2 linked regions of the Homo sapiens genome follow. The protein of the gene in region 1 interacts with the protein of each later gene in a pairwise test. Each region holds a gene or a part of one and is shown in the gene's direction. Other genes may lie near its edges. The genes, in order: RBBP8NL and CHIA.

Region 1 (15,993 bases):
CTTTTCAGGACAGAAAGGTATCAACTGCCACTTGCTGTCATTTCAAATGCATCACTCTGCATGAATGCTGAGGGCACATGCTGGCCAAGGGGAGCTGTTCCCGGCTCATGGGAAGGATAAAACCAGGGGAGAGGGGCAGCAGGAGCAGCTGTGCAAAGGCCCTGGGGAGAGGAAGGCACCAGCATGGCTGGAGCAGGGAGGAGAAGGGCAGGAATGGGCTGGAGGCAGGGGGGCCACTGAGGGCTTTAGGGGGCACTGGGGCATGGGGCTGTGGTGTGAAGTGAAGGCCTTTGCGGTCAGTCTGGGGCCTCAGGGGCCAGCACAGACCAGCTCTGTCTGAGAGGTGGGGTCACAGTCCAAAGGTCATGGGCAGGTTCTGACCCTGCCCTCCCCACTGTGCAGCCTGGACAGTTCACTTCACCTCTCTGAGCCTCCATTTTCTGATCTTTAAATTGCGACAAATACCAACAAGAAATACTAAAATTTAAAAGGCAGAAAATACCAAGTGTTGGAAAAGACGTGGAGGAACTGGAACGCTCCTGTGCCCTGGCAGGAATGAAAGGGCATGGCCACCGTGGGTAGCAGATGGGCAGTTTCCTGTAAAGTTACACAGATGCTTATCACAGGGCCTGGCCATCCGCGCCTGGGTTCCTGGAAAACCGGCACACGGATGTTTATCGCAGCTCCGTTCACAATCACCAAAAAGTGCAAATGACCCAGACGGCCATTGCAGGTGAATGGGTGAGCAGAGTGCCACCCACACAAGGCACATGTGCCACACACACAGGCCTCCAGTCCATTGTTCTGGCAGACATCAGAGCCACACAGAGCACCACTGCAGGGCAGGTGAGCCCCAGAATTGGGGCTTAGCCCACAGGGGTTCTTGGCTTCGCCCAGGAAAGAATTTAAGGGTGAGCCGGTGGCGTTAGCAGCTTTGATTGAAGCGGCCGTGCACAGCAGCAGCAGAGGGACCCCTCCTTGTGAGGTAGGACTCCCCCACAGGCAGCGAGCCCAGAGCAGCTGCTCAGAGGCAGTGCTGCACTCATATTCATACCTGCATTCTGAATTTTTAGAAAAAGAGTGGTACTTCCAAGTCATCACCATGGAAAGGGGGAGTAACTCCCAAGTGTCGCCGTGGCAATGGTAAACTGGCCTGGCACTGGTGGGTATCTTATGGAGAGATGCCTCTTCCCTGTCTCAGCCAGTCTTCAATCTGGTCCAGAGTTTCAGCCCTGTCTCTAGGGTCAAGTCCCACCTCCCGCCTCAGTGTGGTTCCATTTATACAAAATCCTATAAGAGAATTAATCTCCTGCAATAGAAAGCAGGGCATGGGGTGAAACTCACTAGGAAGAGGCATCCAGGAGCCCGTGGTGACCAGAACGTCCTACATTGTGATCTGGAGTCACACGACTGTCCGTATCTGTCAGAACTCATTGAACTGGACACTTGAGATGAAGCGTGTCCTTATATGAACTTGTGAATTCTTCAGCAAAATGTCCGTGACCAGGTAAATGCTCGATAGAGGTCATGATTCTTCAACAGGTGCTCCTCTGAGGGAGAGAAAACGTGTCTCAAATCCTGAGCAAAACACCTAAAAGAGCCGAAGGCAGGAGTGTGCCTGGACACCCACAGCAGCCTCTTCCCAGCCAAAAGTGGAGGCCACCCAGATGCCCATCAGCGGATGAGCAGATCACTGCAGTCCGTCCATGCAGCCCAGAACTTAACAGGAGCGAAGCACAGGTGCAAGCTACCATGGAGGTGAATCTCAAAAGCACAGTGCTCAGGAAAAGAAGCCACGCACAAGAGACTGCACGTGGCGTGGATACGGTGACACGAAACACCCAGCTGGCAAATCCGGGGACAGAAGCAGGGCAGTGTCGCCAGGGCTGAGGGAGGGATGGGGAGGACCTGCTAATGGGCACAGGGTCTCCTTTTGGGGGCAGGAAAATGTTTTGGAACTAGGTCAAGGTGCTGGCTCATGACAGAGTGAATGCGCTAAACACCCCTGAACTGACTCCCTTAAAATGAGTGATTTTATTTCATGGAAATCTCACCTTAGTAATAAGCATCTTAAACCCTGAGCAAAGCCTTGGCAGATCCTCACCCTGGGTGTGCCCGTGTCCCAGGGGTCCTCACGCAGGCACAATGGGGCAAGAGAGAGCTGCAAAGAGCCCTCAGGCCCCGAATTCCCCACTGACTCCAGCACAGAGCACAGCCGTGGGTAAGGGGCACAGCCAGCGAAGAAAAGGGATCAGTCCATCCCTCGCCCACAGGCGCATTCACCCAGGTCAATCCATCCCTCGTCCACAGACGCTCATCAGCGCCTGCTGCACGCAGATTCCAGGGTGGAAGGAGCTGGTCCCTGGGTCTGGGGGACTCGGCCCCACATGTGGTTGCATGGCTCAGGCCAGGACCTCGCCCCTGACACCCCAGGCATCCATGGTGCCATCCACGGTGCCATCCACGGTGCCTTCCACTGCCCCTTCACTTGCTCCTTTTCCAAGGGTCATTCAAGCCGATCTGTCACATAAAAATTTAAACCTGCACCAGAGGAAATTGTCATCCGACAAGGAGCATGTGGCAAGCCAGGAGGATTTCCTTCTGGAAAGGGCTTGGGTGAGACCGAGTCCTCTGGGTGTCCCCATCCACGCTCCCTGATCATGCCCCAAAACAGGAGGGCCTGGGCTTCCTGGAGGCCCTGTTCCTGCCATGTGTCCCACTGCCGAGCCATGCAACTGTTTGGACAACCCCAATGCCCTCGTCCTCTATCTCGGCTTTCCAAACCCTTCCCAAGGAGGAAGCTTCTAACTGAGCCGAAGGTTCACACAGAGGCTGCCAGAGCTGGCCAAGTTCATCAAAGCCAGGCGGCCCCTCCCCCGCCATGTCCCCATCCAGGACTCTGGCTCGGGCGGTGACGGATACTTCAGTCTCCCTTCCCACATCCTCATCATTTAACTTTCTTTTAGGCCATAAAATTCTGACTTTTAATATTTTCAACTCTAGTTTCTCATAAAACAACAATATTAGTATTTCTTTAAAGACACATAGACCATTAATGTATCTTTATGATGTGCGTGGGATCTGTGATGTATGGACCGTGCCTCCCCGACACCAGGCTCCTGGCCACAAGGCACAGGTTATGACATCTCGATCTGACACAGTCTCCGTGTGCTGCAGGACGACGCGGTTTTATTATCTGTGACGTGCCAGCAGACAGCCCAGCTCAGTCCGGGGATCGCTCCCATCACAGACACCTCCTTGTCCCTGCTCCGGCCTGCCCTCCAAAATCACGGATCAAGTTATCCCGACCGACAGAGATTTATGGTCCCATTTTACTCTCGTTAAATTCCCACAGCTCAAGGAAGCTGAGGCCACTCCGTGCAGACGCCCGGTCTGGGAGCGCTGCCACAACTGTTTCTAGCCAGGGAACAAAGTCAGCAGAGAGGAAGTCCAGAAGCACTGGCCAGGCTCGAGGTGGCCATCGCTGCCCCGTGGCAGCCCCTGCCAGCCTGAGCCATCATCCCTCCTCTGTCCGGCCCGTCTGCCAAGGCTGGCACTGCCCTGGAAAATGGTGACAAAATAAGAACCATCTCAGGAGTGTCGCTAGGACCCTCAGTGAGTGGCACAGCCCTGGGCCCTGGCACAGAACCCCTCTCATTTAACCCACACCCTCCAGGAGAGAGGCACCAAGGCAGCCCCACTGTCTCAAAAAGGAAGCTGAGGTCAGAGGTCAAAATGGCCCGGGGTACCCGCTGGTTCACCCCCAGGCACCTCTGCCCCCTCCCCGGAGCCTCCACCCCACACATCCCAGGCAAGAGCCCAACCAGGACTTGGCCTGGGAAGACCCCTCCCAGCCATCCCCCCAGTTCCACACACAGGGTCCCCATTCCACAGGTACCCTCATTTTCATAATATTTAACAAAGGTATAGGAACAAATAGTTTAGCCAGAGTAAAAGGCTTCTGTCGGCTCTTTAGGAAACACAGCCCTCCCCTAAACCACTCCCCAGTTCTCACCAAGCAGGGCCCATCCCGTCTCAGCCCAGAGGAACCTTTAGGCTTTGCCTCTTAGCACTTGAGTTTTCTGGGTAAGACACAACCCACCAGGGCCAGGCACGGTGGCTCACACCTGTAATCCCAGCACTTTGGGAGGCCGAGGCGGGAGGATCGCTTGAGCCCAGGAGTTCAAAATCAGCTTGGGCAGAAAAGAGAGACCCCCATCTCTACAAAACATTTTTAAAAATTTAGCCAAGCATGGTGGCGTGTACCTATGGTCCCAGCTACTCAGGAGGCTGAGGTAGGAAGATAACTTGAGCCCAGGGGTTCAAGGCTGCAGCAAGCTATGGTCTTACCACTGCACTTCAGCCTGAGCAACAGAGCAAGACCCTGCCTCAGAGAAAAAGAAAGGAAGAAATGTTTATGAAGTACCACCATATGCCAGGGGCCAAGACAGCAATGAACGGGCAAACACTTCCTGTCTCAAGAAGGTAGCACCCTGAAGACCCCTGAGCCAATACACAGTTTCTACCCAAGACTTGCATCTTACAGGCCTGTTGGGAAAAGGCCTGACCTACCTACAGTCATGGAGGGCTTCCCTGCAGAGGGGTGCTTGGATGCCCAAGAGCTGGCTGGGAGAGGGAGGGGAGCAGCCACAGGGGACTCCAGTCCGTTGGGGATCTGTGGGCCGGTCCAGGAGGGATCAGACCCTAAGGCTCTGAGGAGGCTGATGGCTGTCCTCACCTCGGTGGCAGATGAAGGTCTCAGGGAGGGGTCCACTCACCCCAGCCTGGGCCCCGTGTGCTGCTGTGTCCTATCTTTAGAGCAATCTGATGAGGCGGAGGCATAGGCAAACCCTTACAGGACAGAGGCCGGAGACGGGCACCATGCCCAGGTCTCCCTACCAGGCCCATTCTCCGGCCACACCTTGGGACCCTGGAGCCGATTCCACCCCACACTCTCACAGCCCCAAGAGTAAGGGACTCGCCTGCCTCACCCTAATCCTGTCTTTATATAAAACTTGGTTATTTGGTTCATTGTGAATTTTTCCCATTAATTTAGACTTCTTAAAAATACTACAGTGGCTGGGCGCGGTGGCTCACACCTGTAATCCCAACACTTTAGGAGGCCAAGGCAGGTAGATTACCTGAGGTCAGGAGTTCAAGACCAGCCTGACTAATATGGTGAAACGCCGTCTCTACTAAAAATACAAAAATTAGCTGGGCGTGGTAGCGCATGCCTATAGTCTTAGCTACTCCGGAGGCTGAGACAGGAGAATCACTTGAATCCTGGAGGCAGAGGTTGCAGTAAGCCGAGATCGTGCCACTGCACTCCAGCCTGGGCAACAAGAGCGAAACTCTGTCTCAAAAAAGTAAACGAAAGTTAAACTTAGGGTTACCATAAGCCCCATCAATTGCACTCCTAGATACACACCCAAGAGGACTGAGGACAAGTGTTCAACCAAAATCTCGCACACGCATGTTCACAGCAGGACTATTCACACCAGTGGAAATGTGAGACCACCAAGTGTCCGTCAGTTGATGACTGTGGTCCAGCCGTGCACTGGAATATTATTCAGCTTCAGCCAGGAACAGGAGCGAGACCCAGCTGAATCTTCGAAATATCGTGCTCAGAGAAACAGGCCAGACACGAAGAGCCAAATGCTGTTTGATTCTATTTTTATGAAATGTCCAGAATAAGCAAATCCATAGAGACAGTGACTGCTGCCAGGTACAAGGCTTTCTTGGAGGTGATGAAAATGTTTTGGAATCCGATCACGATGATGGCGGCACAAACTTGTGAATGTACGAATGACACGGAGCGGTTCACCTTAAGAGGGCTGACACTCAGGCAGGTGCTTACATAGAGAAGCATCCAGCAGGAAGCATGCTCACCCCAAGCAGCGGCTCACCTGGGGAGGGGATGAGACGCGACAATAAAAGGAGACTTTGGTCTTATTTGTCATGTTTAGTGCTTCGCAGGAGGGGGCAGGGGGCATCCTTGCAGTTCTTGTATTAGCAAAAAGTAATTTTTAAAAGAGGGTGCCTACGTTATCTTAAGTGAAACAACTCGGACAGAAAGACAAATACTGCAGGTTCTCACTCACAAGGCGAAGCTAAGTCACGTGTGCTCATGGAGCAGAGTGTGGACAGACGGACAACGGGGCCTCGCAGGGTGGAGGGAAGGGAGGATGGGTGGCTGCTCGGGGGTGCCGTGTGCATTGCACCCTCGACCGATGCACAGAAGGCCCTGACTTCACACAGTACAACGTCTCAATGCAGCATCATCGTACTTAAACCCCATGAAGCTATACAAATAAAAATCATGAGAACATAAAATAGGGTGACTAGCAGTGAGACCATGTGGAGGAAAGACGGGGGGCTTGATCCTTCCCCCCACCAAGAAAGCCTCCGCCCTCCCAAGTGCCCAGGCAGGGCCCACATCTGCACCCCTCCTGCCCAGTGCAGCCTGGCCCCATGGGCACACAGCACCCGCCATCAGGATGCCCCCCAGCCGGGCCAGCAAGGGCTTGTCTGCAGGGAGGGTGGGGATGGGCCCCGGTTGTCACAGAAGGCAGTCCCATTCCTGCAGGGCCGTGCTAATAGGTGACCCATTTATCTGGGGGCCAGGGCTGCAGGGCTGGCCTGACCTGGCCACTGCACTGGCCACCCCACCCTTTATCTATCGCTCCAGTAACACAAATACCAGGCAGCAGGGCCGGCTTTTAAAGGTGCGTTTTACAGCGAGATGCCTTTGAAGCTTATCTCCCACCCCTCCCAGCTCAGAGATAAAAGGCTGCCTCACCTCTGGGGTGGGGCATTGGGCCCCCATCTGGCCTAGGAAGCAGGTGTAGGGGGCCATGAAGAGCCCTCTTGGTCCCTCACCCCAGGCCCAGCAGCCCCAGCCCCTCAGGTGCAGGTGGGGGTGGCTGCCAGGGCTGGGAGGCCACACACACACTTGGGGCCTCATTCCTCAGCTGTATAATGGGGCGATGGAGCAGCCCCCACGCTGAAACCTGGCCACGGTTTGCCAGCAGCGTGTTGAGGCCTTGCTGCCTCATTCTGCAATGCTTCCTGCGAGCCCGGACGCCGGTGCCTGGGTGTCCATCACACCCCCCAGCTCCTGGCTGATCAGGATTCAACAGACATCGGCTGAATGAATGAACAGGTGAGTGGTACCAGGAGAGGAACCCCTTTCACCCTCATCAGCCCTGCAAGGGACAAGTAAACTGAGACTCAGACAGTGCCCTCTGTGTGCCCGATTCTCACAGCCAAAAGCCCCGTAAATGTGTGAGTCACGTTCTTGGCCATCCATGTGCCCAGAGCCTGGACAGGGCCTGGTGGGCAGCCAGGAAATGGGTCTTGGATGGTTGCATGAATGAACAAAGGGGCACACAAACCCACGGCTGCAGAAGGACGCCGACCTCCAGCGACATTCGACCTCCTCCTCCTCTCCCAGCCTTCCCTCCTTCTCTGCCCACAGTGCAGGTGCAGTGCCAGGGGGCCGACGATGTTGCCTGGAGTTCAGGGTAGGAGGCTGCTGGCCTGGGGTTGCCACCTTCTCCCTGGGGACCCAGCCACAGGCACAACCTGCACGGGCACCTCTGTCCTGTATCACCAAGGCCTGGACATGGCGGGGTGGGGTCCCTGGCCAATGAGCCAGGGCAGGCAGGCACGAAAACTGGCTCAGTCCAGGAGGTCGCTTGGCTTTGCTCAGGGAGGAACTCAAGGTCGAGCCGGTGGTGTTAGACAGCAGCTTTGATTGAAACAGCCATGCATGGCAGATGCAGAGGGACCCCTCCTTGTGAGGCAGGGCTCCCCACAGGCAGTGAGCCCAGAGCTCACATTCATACCTGGAGGCTGCAAGTTCAAAATCAAGGCACCAACTTGTTCCACGTCCGGAGAGGACTCACTTCCCGGTTCATAGACGGCACCATCTCGGGTCCTCACATGGTGGAAGGGGCAAGGGACCTCCCTGGAGCCGCTTGTAGAAGGACACTGATCCCCCAGCAGAGCTGCAGCCTCACGAACTTGCCATCTCCCAGAAGCCCCGCCTCCTAACATCATTGCCTGGGGCGTTAGGATTTCAACGAGAATCTGGGGTAGACACAAAAAACATCCAGACCACAGCACAAAGCAGCTACACATGTCCACGCACACATGTGCACACACACACGTGCAACACATGCACACACAGGCACACACATGTAAGACATGCACACACATTCGTATCCCCACACACACACACACACACACGTGCACACAGTCCCCACACAGGCACACACAAAACACACGCCAGCAGCAAGCAGACCCCACTCACAAAGGGCCCAGCCAGGAACAGGGAGGTGGCCGGAGGAGGGGCCTCCACGAAGTTCCCAGGCCAGCCAGAGCTGGAGTGGCCCATGCTGACCACAACCCCCTCCCAAGAGCCTGGTCCTGAGTGGGAGGGCATCGTGGGGCCAGAGATGACCCAGCCCTCATCCCAAACCCAGAGCTGGCCACCAGCCACCAGCAGGGGCCCTGCCAGGGAGCAGGAAGTCCGTCCTCCCCTCGCGGCAGCGGCTACAGGCCAGGCTCCCAGGCTTCCTCCTCTGAGCCCCGTGCATTCCTGGGGTACTCGGGTGCGCTGGGGATCATGGCCCCAAGGACTCGGGAACCCCCGCTCTGCTTCCGTGCAGAGCTAAGACAGGCTGAGGATGAGGCAGAGGCGGAGGTGGAGGCGGGGAGGAGGGAGTGGGGAGGGGTCGTGGGTAGGACACAGGGGGCAAGGCATGAGGGGGTCAGGGCTGTACCCCGCAGCCACAGTGTTGCTGTCCAGGGAACACACACGAGACCACAGTGTGAGGCTGCTCCAGCACCTGGGCCGTGCCACCCGGGGCCAGGCCAGCCCCCAGCCTATTTGCCCCCCTGGGCTCCACCTGGCCGGGGGCACCCAGCCTACCTGGAGACTGGAGAAGCCCACTCACAAGCACTCACAGACCCCGGGCAGACTGCGCAGACCAGAGGCCCAGCATGCGCCCAGTCCCCCTCAAGCAGAAGGCCTGCTTCCCCAGGCAGGGCGGGGCAGGCTGGGCGGGTCGCTTCCCATAGCAGCTGCTGGATTTCTGTCCACTGGGTTCTGGCAGGGACAGCTCTTGAGCTTATTATCCCCAATTTACAGACAGGGAAACCGAGGCCAGAAAGGGGACTGTCACCTACCTATGGTCAGCCCACGGTGAGCTGAGCTGTGAACAGCAGGAAGGACCACTCTGTGTCAGAGGCCCTACCACCTGTCCCGAGGTGGCGAGACAGCACATTTGCTCACTCCCACCTGCAGCCCCCGACCCAGGCACCCCTGCAAGCCCCCCACCCTTCCCCGCCCGGGCCCTCCGTGTCACAGGCACCAAACTGGATTCTCAGTGCTAACCAGCTTGGCTCCTGCAGCCCAGCCTCACAGTGATTATGAGGAAACAATCCCAACTCTATGTGGCTTCAGACCCAACCTGTCCGGCCACTTTCTGCGAGATGGCAGAACCCGCCTGGCGGCTCAGGGCAGTCTCTGCCTCCTTTCTGCTCCTGGCTGGGAGAATCGAAAACCTGTCAAGCGGGTTTGGCCAAAATCCTGTCTTGTTGCCTGTGCAGGTTCACAGCCCGCTCACTTCTCTCTCCCTGTGAAGAGCGTGGGGGACTCCGCGCAGAGGTCGACAGAGGTTGAGGCAGGGCCAGGAGCCATGTGAGTACCCGGGACCCCGGGGCCAGGCCACCCAAGTAGCCGGGTGAGCTGGGATCCCTGGCTGGGGTGCTCACCAGGGAGGCTGGAGGCCCAGCTTGGACTCCTGCGAGGAGAGCCGCGGGGGTGGGTGGGACTGGACGTCTTCCCTAAGGGGTGGCACAAGGCTGCTCCTGGTCCAGGGACCTAGCAACGGAGAGAGCTCAGTGGGCGTTCCTGGCAGGAGCTGGGTGCAAAGAGGCCAGGCCTAGTCTGGCACCAGGGCCCAGGAAGTGTCCATGGTCTGCTGAGGGGCTTGGGGCATCAGGGACAGGCTGGTGGCCTCGCCCTCCACCCTGGGCCTGTCCCGCCCCACCATCCAGGTTCACAAGAGGATAAGCGGGCGCAGCCACAGGGGTGAGGGTGGTGCAGGGGTGCAGCACCCGCAGCTGGGCACTGAGCAGGGGACTCCTCTGCCGCTGTGTCTGTGGGGAAGCAGCCACAAAGGCGGGCCTTGCTCAACCCCCTCCCCCACGGGCCAGGCCTCAGGGAGCCAGCCGGCAGGGCAGGAGAGCAGCCCGGCCCACCTCCACCTCCGGGAGGGAGTCAGGTTGCAGGGCTGCTGTGCCTGAGCTGCAGGGACACCTCGGCTGGCTCCTCTGTTTATGTGTACACACGAGTGCACGGGCGCACGCGCGTGTGGGGTACACGAGTGCATGTGCACACACAACATGCGTGTGCAGCTGTCCCGGGGGCCCTGCGGCGGTGTGTGCACAGGAGCCTGGGTCAGGGCTCACCACCAACATCTGTTCTACAGTCACAGAAACTGAGGCACGGCCAGACAAGCGACCTGGCCGAAGTCTCCATGGGAGAGGCTTTGCCCATTACCACAGAGGGTGGGAGGAGACTCTGAGGCCATGTCCAGGTCCAAATCTTGCTCCACCTGCTCATCTCTGATCTGCTTCAAGCCTCAGTGTCCAAACCTGTAGAATGAGACAATCAGCACTTCCTCCAAGGCCAGGTGGGCCCCGGCCACATGCATGTGCCCAACCTAGCTATGCAGTGGGTGTTCCACAGGGGCAGCCAGGAGGTGGACAGGGGCAGGGGAATCCCTTGGGGAGAAGCGGGTCAAGGTGCAGAGGGCACCACTCTGAGCTTGGCTTCCTCAGCAAAGCTGCAGGATGGTTTCAGTGCCCATGCAAGTGGGAAAAAGCCTGGTGTGGTGCTTGACACAGAACAGTATGTGATCAACAGCAGCCACTGCCACTGCCACTGCTAATGCCACTGCCACTGCCGCTGCCGCTGCTTCCACTGCCACTGTCACCACTGCCACTGCTACTGCTACCACTGCCACTGCCACTGCTAATGCCACTGCCACTGCCGCTGCCGCTGCTACTTCCACTGCCACTGTCACCACTGCCACTGCTACTGCTACCACTGCCACTGCCACTGCTAATGCCACTGCCGCTGCCACTGCCACTGCCACTCCCACTGCCACTGCTACTGCCACTGCCACTGCTATGCCACTCCCACTGCCACTGCTACTGCTACTGTCACTGCCACTGCTATGCCACTGCCACTGCTATGCCACTGCCACTGCCACTGCTACTGCTGTGGCCATCACCGTTGCTCCTGGATAGGTGGGCAGTCAGTCAGATGGACATACAGACAGCCCAGGCCTCAGAGACGGAGGGTACCAGTGTCCAGCTCCGCACTCCTGCCCCAAAGAGCCTGCTGGGGGTCGGTGGCTGGGGTGGAGAGCAGCCGGCCTGGCAGACGTCCTTGGAGCACTGGTGCCCAGGCGGCTTCTCTGGTTGAGTGCCCTCGGAGAGGCGGGGAGCCCAGTGATGCCCCGGATGCCTCCTGCTCAGACAGCAGAGGAGCTCAGGGGGCCCGGCCTCCCAGAGGACAGGGTAAGAACAGGCATCACTGTGGGTTTTGGCACTCGGCCGGACAATGTCCAGTCCTGCCAGGGCCACAGCTGGGCCTGTGATTCCCTGGCCTGTGTGTGGGAGGCAGGTGGCATCTCCCCTGGGTGTAGCCACAGAGATGCCGTGAGCCCATTGGAGTCCGTAGTGAGCAGCCGTCCAAGGATGAGTGTCATCACCGTCAGAAGCCGGACCTCTGCCCTGAGCGTGGGGAGGGCTGCGTCCTCCTGCACAAGGCCTTTGTGGCAATGAGACTTGACCTTGTCCAAGCACAGAGGGTCCTGCCGTCAGCACTGCTGGACACCTGGGGTCCCACATGAGGGAGGCGCAGGTCATGAGGGAGGCGCAGGTGAATCGGGGTCTCCCTCGGCTGCTCACTGAGCGCTCCTGTCTACGGAGCTCCTGGCCACACAGGCATTACCTGTGAGGAGCTTCTAAGCAGCCTGATACAGGGGCAGGGGTGCTGTCACCCCCAGGTGAGGAAACAGGCTCAGAGAGGAAAAGCAACTTGCCCAAGGCCGCATAGAGAGCAGAGATGGGTCCGAGAGCCCCACCAGGGCTGCTGACTGGGAAGCCCACACCTTTACCCTCCGCCCAGACTGACTCTCCAGCCAGCACCCTTCAGGAATGCGACCCCTGCCCCGCCCCAGCCAGCTCAGCGGGTGGGGGGGGTGCACCCTCTCTGCTGGGGCTCTGAGAATGCGTGAGGTAGGATTAACAACAGCAAACCTCTGCCCCCTCTGAGTGGCCACTCCAGAGTGCCCTGGGAGAGTGGGTGGAGACCCTAGGAGGGCAGGTGCAGGCTCTGGGGGGCCTTTAGAGGGAGGTGGGAGTCCTGAGGGACAGGCAGGGCCCACAGTGCATGTCCATTCCCTGGATGAGGACATGAGGTGGAAGGTGGTCTGCCAGCCTCAGGCTCCCCATGGAGGGCTCTCCTGGGCCCTGTCCGGGGGATAAGAGGCACCCGTTTACTGGATGGGCTCTGTTCCGTTCTGGTGAGAGCAGCACGTCGCCCCTTGGTTTTAAGGAGCAGTCCCCCGAAGGCAAAGGTGCTGGCACCAGTAGCACCTCACTGCAGGAGGCGGAGCTGCCGGCCTGGGTTAGCTGAAGCCCAGCCCGGCTCTCACTAGCTTTGACCGTGGGCAAGACGCCACCTCTGGGTCGTGTTCTCAGTGGCAAAATGGAGCAGAGGGCAAGGCATGGTGGGGTGAGAGTGGTGTCGAGGGGGACAGACATGCGCCCCTCACACCTGCCCCCCCCACGGCCCAGCTGCAAGCAGCAGGTGGGACAGCGGCTCACTAGCCTGCCCTCCCCTTCCCCCACTCCTTCCAGGGGGCTCAGCACCCACAGAGACCCTCCAGCCTGGACTCCCGAGTGGGAGGGTCTGGGAGTGGGAGGAGTGGCTGAGGGTGACCCTGGACCAGAGCTCAGCTCTCTCACCCCAGCCCTGTGAAGCCCCCCATGAGCCTCAGCCCAGCCCCTCCCCGCCCCGGTAGGCTTGCTCCCCCATCACAGCCCCACTGCAGCCCCCACCCAGGCCTGGAGGAGACCCTCCTTCCGAGTTCCCCCAGCCCCAGCACCCCTAGCTGCCCTTGGCAAGCCCAACAAACCCAGAGAAGGCTGACTCGGGAAGAAAAAGCCAGCCCCACTGACCCCGCTGCTGACCCCTGGCTCAAGGCTGCGGGTGCGGGTCTGGGTGAATTTCTACAATCCTGGTTCATTTCTTCTCCCCAAAAGCACCAAGGCTTGCAACTTCCCTCCACCTCCCATCCCTTCCCCGGAGCTCTCCAGCACTCTAGGAGTGCTGCAGGTGGTTTCGGGCACAGAAAGGATCCTGTGAGTGGGAGGCACAGCAGAGGCTCCGTCCCAGCCTCTGCACCACAGTGACTTCACTGGGAAGGAAGCCCACCTCTCGTGTGGACCCCAGAGACCTCTCCCAGGCCCGCAGGCACCATGGGCTCCCTTGGGCGGCTCCTTTATGGGCGTCGGCCCAGCCCACATGGCAGATGCTGGGGGCCAGGGAAGAGTGGCCTGTTGGGCGGGTCTGGGGGGAGTTTCAGGAGCTGCAGCTCCGCCCCCTCCTGGCCCTCCTCAGCTGCTTGAGCCCAGGGAGGCCCCGGCTCTGACATCTTCCTCCCAGGGGCCCCCTTGGCCAGGAAAAGCCAGTGCAGCTGGGTGCACCAGAGCCATGGGGAGGACGCCCCAGTCCACACAGGCAGAGCATGCAGACCCACAGCCCCAGGAGCTGGGCACAACCCAGATCCCACTTCCCACTGGGTGACTGAGACGGGAGGCTTGATCTGTTTGAGCCTCAGTTTCCCCATCTGGAGCGAGGTCTTCGTGGTGTGGTCAAGATTCCGTGGGCTGTCAGGAAGGTCTCAGTGTGTACGGAGTTCGGGAAACAGGGTCAGAACCACTGATGCTGGCCACGTGACCTGCTTCCGGCAGGCTCCATGCTGTCCCCACCTCTGGAGCTCAGCGTCCTGTTGGTCCCCTTCACCAGCAAAGACATCCCTCCCAGCCTCCCACCAGGAAAGCCCCAAGTCTCCCTAGTCCCAGGATCCCTCACCCACCCAACACAGAGCCGCCAACTGTCACCCCCACTCCCTCCGAGGGTGGCTGGAGGCCCCAAAGCCCAGGCGGGTCTGTGGACTGAGCCTCTGCAGCCCAGCATCCTGGTGCTCCGCCCTCCATGCAGCCCCACTAGCCCTGTCAGGGGCCCCTGGGGACGCTGCAGCCACCCCCGAACACAGGCCACACTCTGTCCCACACCCCTTGCTGCCCCACCAGGCTCGGCACTAATGCTTGATCACAGGTGCAAGGGCTCGGCAAGAGTTAGGACACCCTCCTTCCAAGTGGCTCCAGTCACCATCCCCACCCCGGTCCCCATCCCCACCCCGGTCCCCATCCCCACCCCGGGCCCCATCCCCACTCCGGGCCCCATCCCCACCCCAGTCCCCGTCCCCACCCCAGTCGCCATCCCCACCCCAGTCCCCGTCCCCACCCCAGGCCCCATGGCCTCTCTCGGGGTCCCAAGGCCTCTCTCGGGGTCCAAGGCCTGCCACCCTCAGTTAGAGGCACCCCAGCCCCACCCCCAAAGACGCCCACCACCTGACTTCCAGGGCCCCAGGGCAAGTGCCTCTTTCTGTGTTCAATGCACCCTCAAGCCTGGCTTGGGTGGTTTGGCCACGCTGGGATGGGCATGGGGCTGGGCGGCCACCATATTCCACCCGTCATGGGATGGGGTTAGGCGGTCCTGTTCGGGACGGTTCTGTAGAATGATGTTGCACACAGGACCCTCACGTGGGCGTCTCCAGGCTGACCTTTGAGAACCCAGATGCAGCCATGGCTGTTCCGCTCTGTGATCCACTTGGGCTGGGCTGGCCGTGGCGAGGCCTTGGGCATGGCCTCCAGCTGCGAGCCCGAAGTTGGATTTTGAGCAGAGCGGTGCACATCTGAGCAGAGACCAGAGCTTCCCAGGGATGGCCACCATGGAGAGTGGTCCTGGAAGAGATGGGGGGAGGCAGGGGGTTCAGGGAAGGTTGAGCAGGAGGCCAGGCAGGGAGGAGGCCGACACAGTTGTTCAGGTGACGCACCAGTGGTTCCACAGTAGGTTGGGTATGCACACACACAGCACACACACATGCACACTGGCTTGGGCACGCACACACAGAGCAAAAACAGATGCACACACATGGCACACACACATGCACACTGGCTCGGGTGTGCACACACAGCAAACACACATGCACACTGGCTCAGGCATGCACACACATGGCACACACCCGCACACTAGCTCGGGTATGCACACACATGGCACACACACATGCACACTGCCTATCATGCACACATGCCACACACATGCACACTGGCTTGAGCATGCACACACAGCACATACACATGCACACTGGCTCTGGCACACACACATGCACACTGCCTATCATGCACACATGCCACACACATGCACACTGGCTCAGGCGTGCACACACATGGCATACACACATGCACACTGACTTGGGTGTGCACACACATGCACACTGGCTATCACACACACACAGCACACACATGCACACTGACTTGGGCATGCACACACACGGCACACACACATGCACACTGGCAATCACGCATACACGGCACACACACGCACACTCACGCACACTGACTTGGGTGTGCACACACATGGCACACACACATGCACACTGGCTCAGGTGTGCACACACATGGGACACACACTGGCTCGGGCGTGCACACACATGGCACACACACACGCACACTGGCTATCATGCACACACACGGCACACACATGCACACTGGCTCGGGCGTGCACACACACGGCAAACACACACACTCCCCCACCCGACCGCGTGAAGCACAAGCCACCCG
Region 2 (7,836 bases), on another chromosome or scaffold:
TACCTTCTGCTCCTGCTGCAGCTGGTGATAACATTTTTCAGATATCACCTCACCCAGCCTCAGAAGTTGTTGTGCAATAAAAGGTTGAGCATTACTGTACAATCGCTTCTGCTTCTTTACTGTAGGATCTTAGATGTAATTGATCCCTATTTCCCAATGATATACAGTTGCTCCACCAGCACCCAAGCCTGCAGCATGCACTGCTAGTCCTGGATGTTGGGTAGCGGAAGCAGGGGGATTAAAGGAAAATACATGGTCCCTTCATTCTCAAAACATGTATTCAGATGAAGGCTGGGGAGCCCAAGAATGTAAGACTCAGATAACAATGACCCATAAGCAAATGTCATTTTAAAGTGATTGATTTGCCCTTTTGGCTGAGAATGCACAATTAGGAGGCTATTGCAGTGATTCAGGGGAGAGGTGCAGGCTCAGAACAAAGTAGTAGCAGTAGAAGTGGTCAGAGGTGATTGAATTTCAGCTGTATTCTTAAGATTTGTTAAGCCAGCAGGTTTCTTTATGGGTTGCATGTAGAACGTGGGAGACAAAAAGGGGAGCCAAGGATAATTTCAACATTTTGGCTTAAGAAATTGCAAATATGAAATTATCATCAACTGAAATGGAGAAAGCTAAAAGTAGAGTAGATTATGAAGGAAGAGCAGAAGTTCAACTTTGGACATGTTGAATTTAAGATTGTTATTGGGTTTCTAATTGGAGATGTGGAGTAGATAGTTGGACATAACATTTTTAGAGGTAGTTGGTATTTATAGTTGGACATAACATTTTTAGAGGTAGTTGGTATTTAAAGTCAATAGATTAGATGAGATCATTAAGGGAGACAGAGAAAGGAAAGCATTCAAGGACTAAGCCCTGAGCATTTCAGCATTCAGAGGGAGGCTGGAGAGAAGAGTAGGAACAAGTAATGAAGACCAAAAAAGGAGGGCTAAGTGAGGTAGAAGGAAAACCAAGTGTCAAGTATCCTGAAAGCCAAGGAAAGAACCATATTAAGGAGGAGAAAGCGATCAAGTTTGTCAAATACTACTTAGGTCAGGTCAGATGAAGTCTGAGAATTGACCATTATGTTTAACAACCTGTAGATCATTGACAAACTTGACAGAAGTGGGGTTGGTAAACATCTTGGTGGCAAATGCCTGAGTGCAGTAGGTTTCAGAGAGAATGGAAAGGTAAGAATTGAAGACAGTAAGGATACAAAAACCTGTCTTATATGTGTTAAAGGGAAGCAAAAAATGGGATTAAGAATAAAAGATTATGGAAAACAGAAGCTGAATTTATGTTTTCAAACCCACATTTACTTATTTAGAGATATGGGAGATAAAAATCTAACATTCTTTCCATACCTCTCACTTTCTTATTTTTATTATTATTTTCACAGAGTCAAAAAATTTTTTTAACTTAAAAATTTTTATTTTTGGGACAAGGTCTCATTCTGTTCCCCACGCTGGAGTACAAAGGCACGAACATGGCTCAGTGCACCCTCGACCTCCTGGACTCAAGCAATTCTCTAGCCTCAGCCTCCTAAAGTGCTGGGATTACAGGCATGAGCCACCACATCCAGCCCCAAATTTTTAATATCACTTTGTTTTATAACAGAACTGAAGTCCTATATTTAAATCAATGCAATATTCATCCCCTATACTTACACTACAGCTTATCCAATATTCATTTCTTTAATTATCTTGTTGTTTGTTTTGTTTTTGTTTGCCAAGAAGGACTTGGAGTATCTTCCATTTTCTTGCATGTATGAAAGTGCCTGACTGTTGCCTTTATACTTGATTGGTAACTTTTTGGACATAGATATTGGCTCACTCTTTTACTCAAAATTTTGTAAATATTACTGCTTTTTATTCTGGCATTGAATATTGAGCTAGTGTTTTTCCTATGGCTCTTTCATTTACTTTTTCAGGTTTGGATGTTTTGTAGTTGAACAGTTTTTTCAAGTAGTTCTGTGGCTGCCACAGGCCTTAAGTTCTTTTATACGTGAGAATATCTGCCTGTCTCCTCGGTTCTTGAAAAGTATACTTCAAGAATATTATACTTGGTAGAGTATAATACGATAGGCTTGTACTTTCTTTTCCTCAGAACTCTTCAGGTGTAGACAAAACTTCTTAACATTATTTCAAATCATCTCTGCCTTACCTTTTAATTCCAGTTGAAGCTACAGCCACCAATTCTGCATAAGCCTTAATGGTCTTCATGGCGTTATGGAATCTTACCTCAGATCTGTGTTGTGTACTTCTTGCTACCCTTCCTAGGGCTTCTGAGATACAGGTTTCCACTCAAGCAGGTACAATCTAGACATGCAGAGGGGTTACTGTCACTTACAAACATCAGGGAAACGTAATGTTTCCACCTTTCCTCCCCTGATGTTCTAGAAGCACATTTTGTAAGACTTTTAACACCGTTCCAAAGGGATAGAGCATTTAGTTGTTTCTACCAGTGGCTAATATGATAAAAGCATGATTTTATTGGCCCTCCCTTCTTCCCTGTTTCACTCCCCTGTCTCTTACTTATTCTTTGCATTCCACTCCCAAATTACTCTCACATGAGCTACTTCCAGGTGAACTTAGCCTTAGATAGTAGGCATTGCTCCACTGTGTCCTGGCATTGAATATTGTTGTAGGGATGTTTGAAGACAGTGGATAATCACTACCCTTTCTTTAATCCACACTTTTAAAGTTATTTGATTTTTTTCCTGTGAGTGCCTGAAGAATTCATGATTTATTCTTGAAGTTCAATAACTTAACAAGGTTATACCTTGATTATGATGGTTTTTGTCAATTTCTCCTATAAAACAGTTGAGAGGTAAGATTTAACTTGCCTGAGTTAACAGACCTGCAGGCGGCCTCCTGGAAAAGAAAGTTGGCCTGTTGCCTCTGGAAACCAGCTATAATCTATAGCCTAGGTCCTAATGCAATCCATCCTGGCAGAGAGCTGACCATGGTGAATGAGAACTTCAGCCAAGTTTACACCAAGCAGTTGTGCATAATCACGGGGTTGGATTACACCAGAAGAAAGCCAAGTGTTCTCCCAACAGATGAATGCTAAGGTAGTAGATAAGACTGAAAGCCAAGGTTCTGCTATATCATACTGCTATTAGATCCCATATCCTAATCTCACTAAAGAAGAGTTTTGTTAAGAAGCTTAAAAGTCCCAACATCCAAAGCCCAGAGCCTCTTTCTCAGAGCTAGATATGTGCTATGTTAGATTGTTGTATGCTGCCTGAGAATAAAATAAACACCAGAGGATCACTCATCTGCCATCGCTTCTGTCTCTGACTTTTTACCCAGAAGTACTATTCCAGAAAGCCCAGTGTGCATGCTGCTTGGCTACTCACCCTGAATCACTTGACAACTGGTGTAGAGAGCTGGATGTCAGACTAGGGGCACCTACCATGGCCTTCTAGAAGTGAACCAAGGGACTTGGGATTTAAAAAGTGTTTCTCAGATGATCCCATCGCTTTCAAAGATTCGTATGGCAGTCATGGGGACTAGTCCACTAAATTCCTGAAGATACAGAGTGATAAAAGTGATACTGCGTAGTTAAGATCATCGAGCCTAGCATTCCATGATTGTTATTATTGGCCTTGGAAGAATTAGCTCTAAGGAGGCAGACCGAGGGGAACTTGACTCAGCATCTTGAATGAAATTACAATTTGAAAACTTTGGTGAATGTGAAATGATTTATATATGGTCTTATCCAAGCAGGATCAAACAAATTCCATCCTCTGACCCTCTTCCTATGACTGATAGGATCAGTTCAAGATGGCACAGGTTGTCATGTTATTAGGGTGTTATGAGCTCCAGTTAAATGGGTGCAAAGGGAAGGAAAGACAAAGTATGTGACTTATGAGGTTAGTTCCCTCATAACAAGTGAAGAAGATAATCTGAAATAGGCTGATTGAACTAACCGAACTTCTGGGTAGACTCCCACTATAGCTCCGTCTTAGAAAGTCTATGTGATTACTGCTTCTATATAAAGGGTTAAACATGATAAAATTGATGATGGTCCCTATCTTTGTCTATGGAAAAAAATATCCAGTGAGTTTTGGGGGAACTCATGACCCAAGTCATAATAGGAATTTCAGGCTTCATAAAGACATCATGGTTGAAGCAGAGGTGTTCTGTTTCCAGCAAAGCCCAACAGGAAGCTAACTTTTGCTTTTTGAAAGGAGGATTCCCCACCAGACTGGGAAGCAACAGCCTAGGCTCCAGAGTCGGACACTGGACTTAAGTTGTTATCAGATGAATTTGCTCAGCTGCGTACTGTTGTGTTACAAAATCAAATGGCATTAGATACGCTTACCTCAGCCCAAGGAGGGTTTTGCACCTTACTGCATACTGAATGTTCTGTGTATAGCCCTAACAATTCTCACAATATTACTCACAAAGCCATGTTGGGTGTGGTTTTTATTAATTGTGCTTTTAATTCTGCTGTACTTAACCTGTATCTGTAAACTATATCAAATATCCCTTCCCCATGTATCTGTAAGGGTATTTTCCTGCAATTGAGTATCAGATTGAGGCCAAATGTGGAGGAAAAGTTAAATATTAAATTTGAACTCAACTGAACATGGACACAAACAATGGTCACCAAGTCCCGGAACAGGTTGTGTGAGCCCCTTGAGGCGTTCATCCAGCACTGTTTTGGAAAAATCTCTATTTCAATCTAGTCCTATATGTTAGTTATTGAAAAAAATAGACAGTCTCAAAAAACAAGCTGACCTTTTTATGTTCCTTGAACCTAGTTGTGAAGGGCCCTTGTTACTGGGCCTCATGCCAAACAACTCGTTACAAAAACAGCTAGAGTCCCAGACGGTGCCAAAGCTTCATGAAACCTCCTCGTCTGTGCACGAACAGGTGGCCGACTCTGGAGCCCAGGCTGTTGCTTTCCAGTCTGGTGGTGAATCCTCCATAGTCTGGTGAGTGTAAATATATATATATCTTTTCCCTTCTCCCTTTCCCATTGCAATTTGATTGTTATATCAATTTGCTTATTATATCAAGTTGTTTATTATATCGTTTGCTTATTACATCTGCATTGCCATTTATGTGAGATAAAGGTTGTTTACCCTTAAAGGTATTGTGTGTGTGTCTTTTCTCCTCCCCTCACACATCTCTCACACAGATCATTTTATACCCAAAGGGATATAAATCATTCTACTATAAAGACACATGCACACGTATGGTTATTGCAGCACTATTTACAATAGCAAAGACATGGAACCAACTCAAATGCCCATCAATGATAGACTGGATAAAGAAAATGTGGTACATATACATCACGGAATACTATGCAGCCATAAACAGGAATGAGATCATGTCTTTGCAGGGACATGGATGAAGCTGGAAGCTATCATCCTCAGCAAACTAACACAGAAACAGAAAACTAAACACTGGATGTTCTCACTCATAAGATGGAGTTGGAACAATGAGAACACATGGACACCGGGAAGGGAACAAGAAACACTGGAGCCAGCTGAGGGGTTGGGGGCAAGGGGGGGAGAGCATTAGGACAAATACCTAATGCATGTGGGGATTAAAACCTAGATGACGGGTTGATAGGTGCAGCAAACCATCATGGCACACGTATACCTATGTAACAAACCTACACATTCTGCACTTGTATCCTGGAACTTAAAGTAAAATTTTTTTTAAAAAGGGGGGAAAAATATATAGCAAAATGCAACTGGAATTTCCAAATGAATTAGTATTTTATTTAAACATCTATATTTTAAAAATAATTGTAATAATGAGAATACATAGACACAGGGAGGGGAGCAACACACACTGGGGCCTGTCGGGGGGGGGTGGGGGTAGGGAAAGCATCAGGATAAAGAGCTAAAGCATGTGGGGCTTCATACCTAGGTGATGGGTTGATAGGTGCAGCAAGCCACCATGGCACATGTTTACCTATGTAAGAAACCTGCACGTCCTGCACATGTATCACGGAACTTAAAATAAAATAGAATTAAATTAAATCTTAAAAATAGTAATTGTAATAAATTTATATTTGAAACATGTAAGGTATTTAATTCACACACAATGTTTTGTGTGCAAACTCCCCTTTCCCCTATAATTACTCCTCAGCTATCCAAGGACTTGAGGTCTTCAGATTGGGAAAAATAACATTAACTAAAATTTATTAAATAACTAACATGTGCTAGGCCCAGTGCTAGGTAGGTTATCTCATTTAATTCTCACAACAACCCTATAAGACAACAACTAGTATTATCCATATGTAATACATGAGGAAATTGAGGTTCACAGGTGAAATAACTTGTCTAATGTCACATATCTAGAAAGAAGGAGAACAAAAATTGAAATATAAGTTAGCGATTCTAGAGACCATGCTGATATTCTGTTCTGTCATATGGCAACCTTTGTGCTGGACAGATGTGGGAGAATGCTCTCTGCAATTGACTGGCATTGGTTATTCTAACAGTCTTACCCTCTTTGTATGTGAATAAACTGGCATTCTCACTTACATTGACTGCATGGGCCAGTCTCCGTTATCTTTTTTTCCATGTTTTAAAAATGTTTTTCTTGTGGTAAAATAGACCAAAACAAATTACCAACTTAAATATTTTAAGTGTACAGTTCGGTGGTACTAAATACATTCATAATGTTCTTGAGCCATCTCTCCTTTCCATCTCCATAATTCTTTTCATCATGTAAAACTCCAGCTCTATACTCATTAACCTGTAAGTCCCCATTTCCCCCTCCCCCAGCTCCAGGAAACCACTATTCTACTTTCTGTCTCCATGATTTTGACTATTCTAAGTATCTCACATAAACAGAAAAATCATATATTATCTGTCTTTTTGGACTGGCTTTTTTCATTGAGTATAATGTCTCAAGATTCATCCATGTTGTAGCAAGTCAGAATTTCCTTTTAAAGGCTGAATAATACTTTATTGTATGTATATATAACAGTTTTGTTATCCATTCATTCACTGAAGGACACTTGAGTTGCTTGCATGTTTTAGCTATGGTGAGTAATGTTACTGTGAACATGGAAGTACAAATATTTCTTTGACACCAAGCTTTAAGTTATTTTGGGTATACCTAGAAGCGGAATTGCTGGATCATATGGTAATTCTATGTATGATTTTTTTAGGAACTTCCATACTGTTTTCCATAGCAGCTGTACCGTTTTACATTCCCACCAACAGGGCACAACTGCTCCAATTTTTCCACATCCTTGTTAACACTTATTATTTTCTGTTTTTTGATAGTAGCCATCCTAGTGGATATGAGGTGATGTCTCATTGTAGATTTGATAGGCATTTCCTTAATGATTAATGGCATTAAGCATCTTTTTATGTGTTTATTGGCCATTTCAATATCTTCTTTGAAGAAATAGATATTCAAGTCCTTTGTCCATTTTGAATCAAGTTGTTTGGTTGTGTGTGTGTGTGTCATTGAATTTTAGAAGTTCTCTCTATATTCTGAATATCTCTTATCAGATAAACTCTTTGCAAATATTTTCTACCATTCCGTGAGTTGCACTTTTACTCTGTTTGCATTGTCTTTTGATATACAAACATTTAAAATATTCATGAAGTCCAATTTGTGCATTGTATTCTTTTGTTGTCTGTGATTTAGGTGTCATATCCAACAAATCATTGGAAGTCCAATGTTATGAACTGTTTGCCCTATGTTTTCTTCTAAGAATTTTATACTTTTACATCTTACATTTAGGCCATTGATCTATTTTGAGTTAATTTTGCCTATGATGTTAGAAAATGGCCCAAAAACATCAATGGGGCCAGATGTGGTGGCTCATGCTTATAACTCCAGTGCTTTGAGAGGCCAAGGT

The links.
Region 2: the proteins of RBBP8NL (region 1) and CHIA interact in binary tests that used the Homo sapiens proteins (3 or more experiments, as listed by UniProt).

What each region holds. Positions count from the first base shown.
Region 1 is NC_000020.11:62,421,173-62,437,165, reverse strand, and holds the start of RBBP8NL (RBBP8 N-terminal-like protein), read left to right. Parts: upstream 1-9,626; 5' UTR 9,627-9,706; intron 9,707-15,993.
Region 2 is NC_000001.11:111,286,015-111,293,850, forward strand, and holds the start of CHIA (acidic mammalian chitinase isoform c precursor), read left to right. Parts: upstream 1-4,836; 5' UTR 4,837-4,936; intron 4,937-7,836.